Linked DNA regions of Homo sapiens. The protein of the gene in region 1 purifies or fractionates together with the protein of each later gene. This does not show direct contact. Each region holds a gene or a part of one and is shown in the gene's direction. Other genes may lie near its edges. The genes, in order: HSDL2, PIN4 and XRCC4.

Region 1 (3,656 bases):
TGCTCTGTAAGCCTTTGAGTTAAACCGAGATCTTTCTTTCTGTCTTTCTTTTTTTTGAGATGGAATCTTGCTCTGTATGCCTTTGAGTTAAACCGAGATCTTTCTTTCTGTCTTTCTTTTTTTGAGATGGAATCTTGCTCTGTTGCCCAGGCTTGAGTGCAGTGGTGCGATCTCGTTTCACTGCAACCTCTGCCTCCCAGGTTTAAGTGGTTCTCCTGCCTTAGCCTCACAAGTAGCTGGGATTACAGGCGCACACCACCATGCCGGCTAATTTTTGTAATTTTAGTAGAGATGGAGTTTCACCATGTTGGCCAGGCTGGTCTCAAACTCCTGACCTCAAGTAATCCTCCTGACTCGGCATCCCAACATGCTGGGATTACAGGTGTGAGCCACCGTGCCTGGGCAGATCTTTTTATAATTAGTTTTCTTCTGATATTTTTATGGTCTTATATTTTTGTATTTTTCAAATATATTTGTATTGTCTATATTTTTTATAGTCAGATTTTTTTATCCCCCTGAGATTTCTTTCAGGAAGTGAGTTAGGAAGCCCACTTGATTTTTCTTCAGATGGCTGCTCATTTGTCCTAGCAGCATTGACCTAAGAGTTAATCTTTTCTCTTCTGCTCGAAATTCTACCTCTGTTGTATATTAAATTCTTGCACATATAGCGCTCTGTTTCTGGACTTTCTGCTCTGCTACTTTAGTCTCTATTCATGTACCAGTACCAGACTGTTTACTTAATTAATTAATTGAGACAGGGCCTCGCTCTGTCACCCAGGCTGGGGTGCATTGGCACCATCATAGTTCACTGCAGCCTTGATCTCCTGGGGTTAAGCAGTCCTCCCAGCTCATCTTCCCAATTAGGTGGGACTATAGACATGCGCCATAATGCCTGGCTATTTTTAAAAAATTTTTTTGTAGAGGAGTCTCACTTTGTTGCCCAGGCTGGTCTCAAACTCCTGGGCTCAAGTGATCCTCCTGCCTCAGCCCCCGAAGTGCTAGGATTACAGATGTGAGCCACTCTACCCAGCCCAAACTATTTTAATTGCTCTAGTTTTACAAAATGTTTTAATATGTGGGAAAGCTAGTTCCCACCACATTTGGATTATTTTTCAGAATTTTCCTGGTTATACTTGGGTATTTATTTTTCCAAATGAAGTTTAGAATAATTTGTATAGTTTTTTGGAAACAGTTGTTCTTCCTTTTACTAAAAATTTCAGTACTTTTACCTGATTTTGGGGTACCAGAGAATTTTAGTAAATTAAACTGTAAGTTAGCTCTTCATCAGCAAGTTTTAGCCATCTATCAATAATACTAAGAAATTTGGAGCCTTCTTTGAAGTGCTCTTGCCTTCTATATTCTGGTACTAATGCTTTGGAGCTGGAGGACTTCTTACTGGCACAGATCAGGGTTATGTTTGCTTTTTTTTCTGCCAATGCCAGAGACTCTGAGTGAGGAAGAAAATGCCCTTTCTCCTACTGGGAATCAATCAAGCTATACTCAAAGCAAAGAGATATGGCTTTTTTTTACAGCAATAGTTGGGACATTTTCTTGTAAATACTTACATTAAAAATCACTTTAGCCTGTGGTCCCAGCTACTTGGGAAGCTGAGGTGAATCACTTGAGCCCAGGAGGTTGACGCTGCCATGAGCTGTTGAGGCTGTTGTGGTAAACTGAGGACCAGAGAGACCGATATTGGGAAGACAGGAGGATGTTTATTTAAGGTACTCACCGGCTCAGTGGATTCACATCCAAAAAGCTGAGCCTTGAACAAAAACAGAGTTTAGCTTATATAGGCCAGCATACAAGATCAAAACAAAGGCAGTAAATTTTACAGTGACAAATCACGTAATCCATAGCATAACTGCTGACCTGGCACTAACCTGTGGCCTTGCATAGCTAGTGGCCTAGCAGCTGCATCGAAAGAAAAACAGGAACTTTGCAAATCTTACTAAATACAAGCATTGGCAAACATAGTCATAACTAATAGTACAAGAGAGACAGTAAAGGAAATTGTTTTTCGTCTTTTAACCTTGCTCAGGGGTGTCTGGAGTTCATTTCTGCAGGCTAGGTCACCACGACCTGTCTACAGCCTTGCTTGCAGTAGTGAAAAACTTGTGCAAGACTGTCAAAAGAAAAACACAACAACAACAACAACAGAACCACTTTAATATTTTATGTATACTACCTTTTGTATGAAAAAAGGAAGGGATAGTTTTTCACATACATAGAGTGTTTTATATATATATATGTTTGCTTATGTTTGAAAAAAGTACAAAAATGATAGGCCAGAAATTAATGAAGCTGGTCACCTATAGGTAAGAGATCAGACTTCTTTTTTAAAAGTTTTTAAGTTTTATTTATTTATTTATTTTTTTGAGATGGAGTCTTGCTCTGTCGCCCAGGATGGAGTGCAGTGGCGCGATCTAGGCTCACTGCAACCTCTGCCTCTTGGGTTCAAGCGATTCTCCTGCCTCAGCGTCCAGAGTAGCTGGAATTACAGGCATGCACCACCACACCTGGCTAATTTTTTTTTTTTTTGACAGAATCTTGCACTGTCGCCCAGGCTGGAGTGCAGTGGCGCGATCTCAGCTCACTGCAGCCTCCACTTCCAGGGTTCAAGCAATTCTGCTTCAGCCTCCCGAGTAGCTGAGATTACAGGCACCTGCCACCACGCCTGGCCGATTTTTTTTTTTTTGTATTTTTAGTAGAGATGGAGTTTCACCATGTTGGTCAGGCTGGTCTCAAACTCCTGACCTTGTGATCCGCCCACCTCAGCCTCCCAAAGTGCTCGGATTACAGGCGTAAGCCACTGTGCCTGGCCAATTTTTGTATTTTTTAGTAGAGACGGGGTTTCACCATGTTGGCCAGGCTGGTCTTGAGCTGACTTCAGGTGATCTGCCCACCTCGGCCTCCCAAAGAGCTGGGATTACAGGTGTTAGGCACCATGCCCGGCCAATTTTTTTAATTTAATTTTTTTTTTTTAAATAGTAACATGGTCTTGCTATGTTGCCTAGGCTGGTCTCAAACTTGGGCCCAAGCAATCCACCCACCTCAGCCTCCCAAAGTGTTGTGATTACAGGCATGAACCACCATGCCTAGGCCTCAACTAATTAAAAAAATATTTTTTTGGTAAAGGTGGGGTCTCACTATGTTGCCCAGGCTGGTTTGTAATAATATATTTTAATTCTCTTTTTTAACCCCACAAGTATTATTTTATTATTATTGTACTCTTTCTAAACAAGATTTCTGTACTTATTTACCAATATCTTTGATTTTCCTATTTTCTTGAATTTCAGACCTTCCATCTGGAAACACTTTTCTTCTGACTGAAGTGTAACCTTTAGTAAATAAGGTGTAAGACAGGAAGAAAAAGTATTTGGATTATAATGAAATAAATAATGCTGTCGTTATTTGCCGATGATATTATCCTGCACAGAAAACCAAAATAATGTATAACTGAATTATTATAATTAATAAAAGTTTAAGAAAATTGCTATATATAAAAGTCAACAAATAAAAATAATTTTGAGCTTGGCATGGTGGCTCATGCCTGTAATCCCAGCATTTTGAGAGGCCAAGGTGGGAGAATCGCTTGAGCCCAGGAGTTCAAGACCACCCTGGGCAGCACAGTAAGACTCTGTCTCTACCAAAAA
Region 2 (3,656 bases), on another chromosome or scaffold:
TGGCTTTATGTAAACATAGGTCAAATTTGAATACTTCAGTAGGGTTGGGCGTTCTTAATATTCAACCTATGATACCTTTTCAAAGTGTGGAATTGTGGGGAGGCTTATACATTGGGTCTCTTTTAGTAAGAAATACTTCCTGGCCAGGCACGGTGTGCTGACACCTGTAATCCCAGCACTTTGGGAGCTGAGGTGGGCAGATCACTTTAGGCCAGGAATTTGAGACCAGCCTGGCCAACACAGTGAAACCCATCTCTACTAAAAATACAAAAAGTTAGCTGGGCGTGGTGGTGCGCACCTATAGTCCCAGCTACTTGGGAGGCTGAGGCAGGAGAATTGCTTGAACCCGTGGGTGGAGGTTGCAGTGAGCCAAGATCGGGCCACTGCACTCCAGCCTGGGCAACAGACGGAGACTCTGTCTCAAAAAAAAAGATAGAAATACTTTCTAGCAGGTTTTTTCTTATCCTCACTCTGATGAAATAATAGCTAGCCGTTGGTCAATGGTAGCTGCATTATCTCAATCTTCACAATCCTATGAGAACACATAGGTCCCGTTATCATTGCATCTTGATGTACAAATGGAGAAACACTTGGAGGTTTAAAAACATGCGTAAGTTCAGCCAGGCATGGTGGCTGACGCCTGTAATCCTAGCACTTTGGGAGGCCGAGGCGGGCAGATCACTTGAGGTCAGGGGTTCAAGACCGGCCTGGCCAACGTGGTGAAACACCATCTCTACTAAAAATACAAAAATTAGCTGGGCGTGGTAATGGGTGCCTGTAATCCCAGCTACTCGGGAGGCTAAGGCAAGAGAATTGCTTGAACCCGGGAGGCAGAGGTTGCAGTGAGCTGAGAGCACACCACTGCACTCCAGCCTGGGAGACAGAGTGAGACTCCGTCTCTAAATAAATAAATAAATAAAGCCTAAGTTCATACAGCAGAGTTGGGATTTGATTCTAGGACCACAGCTCTCAACCCGTATCGTGTTTCCTCCTCCTGTTAGCATGAAGGTATATGGTAAAAGATGGGAGCTTCCCGGCCGTGAGCGGCGGCTCACGCCTGTAATCCCAGCACTTTGGGAGGCCAAGGCGGGTGGATCACGAGGTCAGGAGTTCAAGACCAGCCTGGCCAACATGGAGAAACCCCATCTCTACTAAAAATACAAAAATTAGCCAGGTGTGATGGCACATAGCTGTAAACCCAGCTATTCAGGAGGCTGAGACAGGAGAATTGCTTGAACCCGGGAGGCAGAGGTTGCAGTGAGCCGAGATCACACCACTGCACTTCAGCCTAGGTGACAGAGCAAGACTCCTTCTCAAAAAAAAAAAAAAGGCGGAGCTTCCCACAGCCAGGTGCCTATTTTCCATCTAAATCAGGACTCTGAGACATTGTCTTAATATGGGGAATGGGATTGTGGTTGTTGTCCTGGGCAAACTTCCAGGATTTTTACTTGCTATGAACTAATGTGTTTTTTTTTTAACTGGTGGGGGTAATCCAAATGTAACCACTGTACTTTAAGGAGTCATTTGGGTCTCCAAGTATTACATGAATGTACTTTTTCCTTGCAGGTCAGACACATTCTATGTGAAAAACATGGCAAAATCATGGAAGCCATGGAAAAGTTAAAGTCTGGGATGAGATTCAATGAAGTGGCCGCACAGTATAGTGAAGATAAAGCCAGGCAAGGGGTATGTTGCTCTTATTATTTATAATTTTCTCTCAAGGTAAGAAAGCAAAGTAAAAATGACAAATAATAAAATAAGATAAAAATTCTCCATCCTCCACAGAAGAAACACAGAAGTAGGGATCATTCCTTTGTTCAACCATTGGTTGTAGCGATATTTTGGTTTAAAGATCTCAAAAGCAGAAATGTCCAACTTGTAAATAGTAGAATAAGGGTCATCTATGTCAAAACCTATGCATGACCAAACTTGCACGGCTAACTTCAAAGTCCAGCAGTGTTGAGAGTACTTATGTGTTCAGTCTAGTTAGACTTCTTCTACCTATTTGTCCTTATTGAGCCTATTCCTGTATTGCTCTTAGGAATATACCTCGTAACCTTAGCAAAATGTTGGGAAATTCTCTCAAGCTACAGTAGAACTGTTCCCTCTTCTGGGCCACTTGATATCACTTATCTTTTGGGTTTTTCAGGGTGACTTGGGTTGGATGACCAGAGGGTCCATGGTGGGACCATTTCAAGAAGCAGCATTTGCCTTGCCTGTAAGTGGGATGGATAAGCCTGTGTTTACAGACCCACCGGTTAAGACAAAATTTGGATATCATATTATTATGGTCGAAGGAAGAAAATAAAATCATATGAAAGACTGAATAAGTTTTATACATTTTGTTTCTTTAAAAGGTATTACATATTCTTTTGAGCTGGAGCTGCAAGGAAATACAAAAATTTTTAAAAAGAAAAGATATTGGATGCTCCTTGTATTCTGTGAAAGCTCTAAGTATGGGTTTGTAGGTGTAAGAGAGGGTGGGGCTAAGTGAATGTCAACTGTAGTAGGTATTCAGTCAGTCTTTCTCAAAGAGAAGTCAAGCAGACTCCCTTTAACCTGTATTCTCTTTCCTCCCAGAACTATATCTGACTCTCAGTCTGTCCCATAAATTAATTCAGAAACCATCTTCAGGGGAAGCAGATATCAACTCACACTATTCACACAACTGAAAATATTGGGCATCAAATAGATTAGTGTGTGAGAATCATAAAATAAGTTCCTAGACAACATTTGTTTTACATGTTAGTCAACTCTGATCTTCCAGGACAGGTGGTATTAGCTCCACTGTCTTAACATAGTACGTGGCACGTTATGCCTTTCAGTGTTAACTCCTTTCTTTTTAAATAAATGTTTATTGGAGGAAAAAAGCACTCAGTTGTTCCATGAGTTGTTTTGTACTAGACTAACCGAGTGCTGGTTAAAGGGAGGGATGTCAGCATAAAAATGTCATTCCCTCATCTTCAGTGTATGGGTTACATTAAGACTGTCCTTTCCAGGGCCAATGTTCTGTGCATCTAAATTTTTAAAATTTAAAATGCCATATTTATGACATATAAAAAAGTATAAAGATTACTAATATAAATACTATACTGCTTCAAAAATAAAACTTTGCCAACACAGCTATGTGATTCTTAACAGATTATTTTAACACACTGCCTTCTCTCCCTCAGCTGCATTTGATATTATACCCACTTATATAATGGGAACTTTACCTAGATACCTGACTTTCCCACTTGAGAAGAGTTTCTGAGCACCTCAGTAGGTTATGCCTCCATGAGATTTTCCCCACGGAGCAGATATGCCAGTGTATACAGAGAAGTTCAAATAGATATAAGATGAAACTATGGCTGGGCCCAGTGGTGTGCGCCTGTAGTCTTAGCTACTTGGGAGGCTGAGGCAGGAGGATCACTTGAGCCCAGGAGTTCTGGGCTGTAGTGTCCTATGCCAATCGGGTGTCAGCACTAAGTTCAGCATCAATACAGTGACCTCATCTGGGCACAGTGGCTCAGGCCTATCATCCCAGCATTTTAGGAGGCCAAGGTGGGAGGATCACTTGAGCCTTGGAGTTCGAGGCTGCAGTAAGCTATGACCATGCCCCCTGCACTCCAGACTTCAGCCTGGGCAACAGAGGCCCTGCCTCTTAAAAAAAAAGA
Region 3 (3,656 bases), on another chromosome or scaffold:
ATCTAGGATGATAACTGACAGATATCTAAAATGTTGTCTAAGATATTAGCACTTGAATTTGAGCTCCACAGGCTAGCATTTTTGGAATGAATGAATGATTACATATTTTCAGACAGGTATCTTTTCATTTTAATGAAATTTAGAATACTTTTAACTAGATGCTTTTTAAATAGATGTTCTCTGTTTTCTTTTGTGTTTTCTTCAAGTTTTTCTATGGCCGCATTAAAGATGGCATCTACAAATTTATTTCCTATTTCTCTGTGAAATAACTGTTCTTCCTAGGTATTGGTGAGTTAAAGTTAGATAGTTACTTTTTAACATAATGCAAACACAAAATATGAAATTATTCCTTAAATAGGAAGCATTTATCTTCTTCTTTTTTTTTTTTTAGAAGAGCTACTAGGGCATTTGAAAGATCAATAGGTTTGATAGTGATGATCATATTAAATGTGTCCACTTCCAATAGAGAAAATGTGAAAGTGTTTTAGAAGCTGTTAATATATGAATATAAGCTATTTTTATTCTTACCTCCTTCCAAAGGTTGTGTGACGTATGAGAATCATATTTTATTATCAAAACTTGTTATCAAAAATTGATCATATAAAAATATTGGTACCTTGCAAGACTCCCTTTTTCATTAACTGTCATGGGTCTTCCAGACACTTGATAGCATAGAGACCAAAGGTATGAAAATGTGTGTTCCATTTTAGGGATTCTTTAATCATGATTTCCTTATATTCTGTAATATTTTATACTAATGTTGTTTTTCAAAATTATGGATGGAAATAATTTATCCAATGTTTCATGTCTCTGCTTCACCTCAAAATAAAACATGCAGAGAGATATGAGTATTAATCCCAGCTTCACTAGTTACTTACTTCATCACCCTAGACCATTACTTGATCTCTGTGAGCCTCAGTTTTCTCTTTTGCAAAATGAAAATAATATCTGTTTTTCAGTTTTATAAGGAATTAAAATAGATAAGTGTAATGCATAAGTATGAAATTATACAACCATATGAGACTTTTATCATTACTGTGATAGCCTAAATTAACACAGGAAACCATCCAACCACACACACATTCCAACAAATAACGAGATTGAATCTTGTAATTTTAAAAACAAACAAGTATGCAGACCCATTGCCACTTTTGAGTGTAAGAAAGGGAAAACCTCAGACACCATGTTTGAAGAGGTATTTCAAAACCAAAGTAATTGATGAGAATTAAAGCTTACTTGTAGATTCATGGAATATCTGAACTAGATATACTTCTAGATGACAGTGAGTATAATGTTTGAGTGAGGTAGAATGTTGAGGCTTCAGACCTCTTAGGGAATTGGAGTTGAGCTCTCAGCATAAAGAAAGGAACCTGGAAAATATATGCTGTTAATAAAATAATCTTTTAAAAAAACTACTACTCTCTGTCCAGAGGATGCAGCATAAAAACAGAACAATCCCTAAGGACTATGAGTGAATAAAAGTCTCAAGAAAAATCAGAACCCTAAACCTGTGTTATGTGTGGATGGGAGGTTTAAAATGGAACACTTTGCCTCAAATGTAAAAATCGAGGTGAGAAATTAACTTTCAAAACTAGTCCCAAACTGATAAAACTTGTAATGACCCCCAGAAAGGCAACCTTCATTTAAGACCACTTCTTCCCAGAGCACTTGCCACTTTGGCTAGAGGTGAGCTGTACTCAAATGTTACAAAGCATGAAAGGAAAACAAGTAAAACAAGAATTTTTCCACAGATAGAAGAAACATAATTTATACCCCAGGAGCCACACATAAATACAGAAATGAAAGAGATCTTAAAATACGTTTATTTAAATATTTAAAAGAAGGGTAGGATAAGAACAGGATATAATGACAAAGGAACAAAGATAATATCTAGAATTGAAAATATAATTATTGAAACAAAAATCTCAATGATAGTAAAACATCAGCTTTAAAAATACCTAGATAAGAGAATTGGAAGCGGTCTCTAGTATAGTATGTGTTGCAGAGGAGATGCTCGTACATTTTAGTTTCCTTCCTATTATTTCCTTATCATCTCCTTTCATCCATATTTTCTGTTGTTGGCACATGATATGAGAATAGTGAGCTCCACTTTTGCTTTTGTTTTACTCTGCCCATATGAGTGAGAAACACAGTATAGGCTATTGAATCTTTGATGCAAGGAAGAAAGATGTTATAAAATACTGAACTTATTATTCATTGTAGGAAATTATCTGGCTTTGACCTAAGAGCAGTTACACAAAGTGGGAGTTTCTGTAATAATTTACAATGCGTTTCATCTGAAGACAGAGAAAGAATGTCAAGGGTTTAATGTATTTTACGAGATGTGAGTCTAAATTAATGCATTTCTCAAAAATTGCTAGTTCAGTAAAAAGGAATAATTTGATTTAAAAATGTGTAGTATAGGGATTGATTTTACTTGTTTGAATTTCTGTTACATGTGATAAATTAGTACTAACAGATAAACTAATATTTTCTCATGTGTAGTCATTTACTTTTCATTTTAAAACTTTTGTTAATATTTCCCATAGTTTCTGAATCAGAGATTTCCCAAGAAGCTGATGACATGGCAATGGAAAAAGGGAAATATGTTGGTGAACTGAGAAAAGCATTGTTGTCAGGAGCAGGACCAGCTGATGTATACACGTTTAATTTTTCTAAAGAGTCTTGTTATTTCTTCTTTGAGAAAAACCTGAAAGATGTCTCAGTAAGTAAAACTTTCCAAAATGTTACATAGTAAAATGTCAGAGCATTTATTGAGGAATTATATTTAAATTTAAGTGACTACTATATTATTCCCAGAACACCTCAGAAGCAAAAGCTTGAAAAGTACTTGGTTTCCAAATTAGAAGAATACTTCAAAGCTAAAGTCATTAAATATATTAATGAATCATGAAAAATAAATATTGGAAAATGTGTTTAGTTTTTAATGCTTGAAAAATTTTAAAGTATTACAGAGTTAATTATACAAAAGAATAATCTTGAAAAAGGTGAGATCAGAAGTTTTAGGCCATCGTGACAGGTCTTATTGAAAAAAGTTTTGTGAAATATTGATTTTAAGAAATAAAATCAATCAAAATATATCTTTGAATATAGAATAATTATGACTTATTTTCTACTTTACTAGAGTATATTTGAAATTGAAAAATGCATAGTAAGTATTAAGGATACTTTATATTGTCAGATTTAAAAATATTAAAATAGAAATAACTTGAAGCCTAAGCTTTGCAAACAAGAGTATCTGCTACTTATTCTGCTCAGTTCCTGCACCAATTCAGATCAAGGCAGGTGGTTTATTTATTAAAGTCTGGCACTAATTATTTGTATATTTTACCTAAGTTTAATAGATACTGAATTTGTTTTTTTAACCAGTGGTTTTCAGTCATATATGAGATCTATCATTTCTGAAGGAGAGGGAAGGAAATGTTTGCTACATTAAGTTAACAGAAATGTATTGAGAATTTGTTTTAGTGCTCAACTGAGTTTAGGAAATTCTTTTAAATCAACCTTTTAAATTTGGAATAATTAAAGAGATTTCATTAATTAGATAAACATTTGTAGAAACAAATGGAGTCATTATAAATTTATATTATCGTGTAGGGAATAATGCAGAGAAACTACCCTTAGTAATTTATATT

The links.
Region 2: the proteins of HSDL2 (region 1) and PIN4 fractionate together in Homo sapiens (co-fractionation; one large-scale study listed by BioGRID). This does not show direct contact.
Region 3: the proteins of HSDL2 (region 1) and XRCC4 purify together in Homo sapiens (affinity purification with mass spectrometry, with the first as the bait; one large-scale study listed by BioGRID). This does not show direct contact.

Annotation. Positions count from the first base shown.
Region 1 is NC_000009.12:112,382,969-112,386,624, forward strand, and holds part of HSDL2 (hydroxysteroid dehydrogenase-like protein 2), read left to right. Parts: intron 1-3,656. UniProt on the Homo sapiens protein: Has apparently no steroid dehydrogenase activity. Controls bile acid (BA) and lipid metabolism in response to nutritional cues.
Region 2 is NC_000023.11:72,195,219-72,198,874, forward strand, and holds the end of PIN4 (peptidyl-prolyl cis-trans isomerase NIMA-interacting 4), read left to right. Parts: intron 1-1,566; coding exon 1,567-1,686; intron 1,687-2,149; coding exon 2,150-2,308; 3' UTR 2,309-3,122; downstream 3,123-3,656.
Region 3 is NC_000005.10:83,108,479-83,112,134, forward strand, and holds part of XRCC4 (DNA repair protein XRCC4), read left to right. Parts: intron 1-2,549; coding exon 2,550-2,725; intron 2,726-3,656.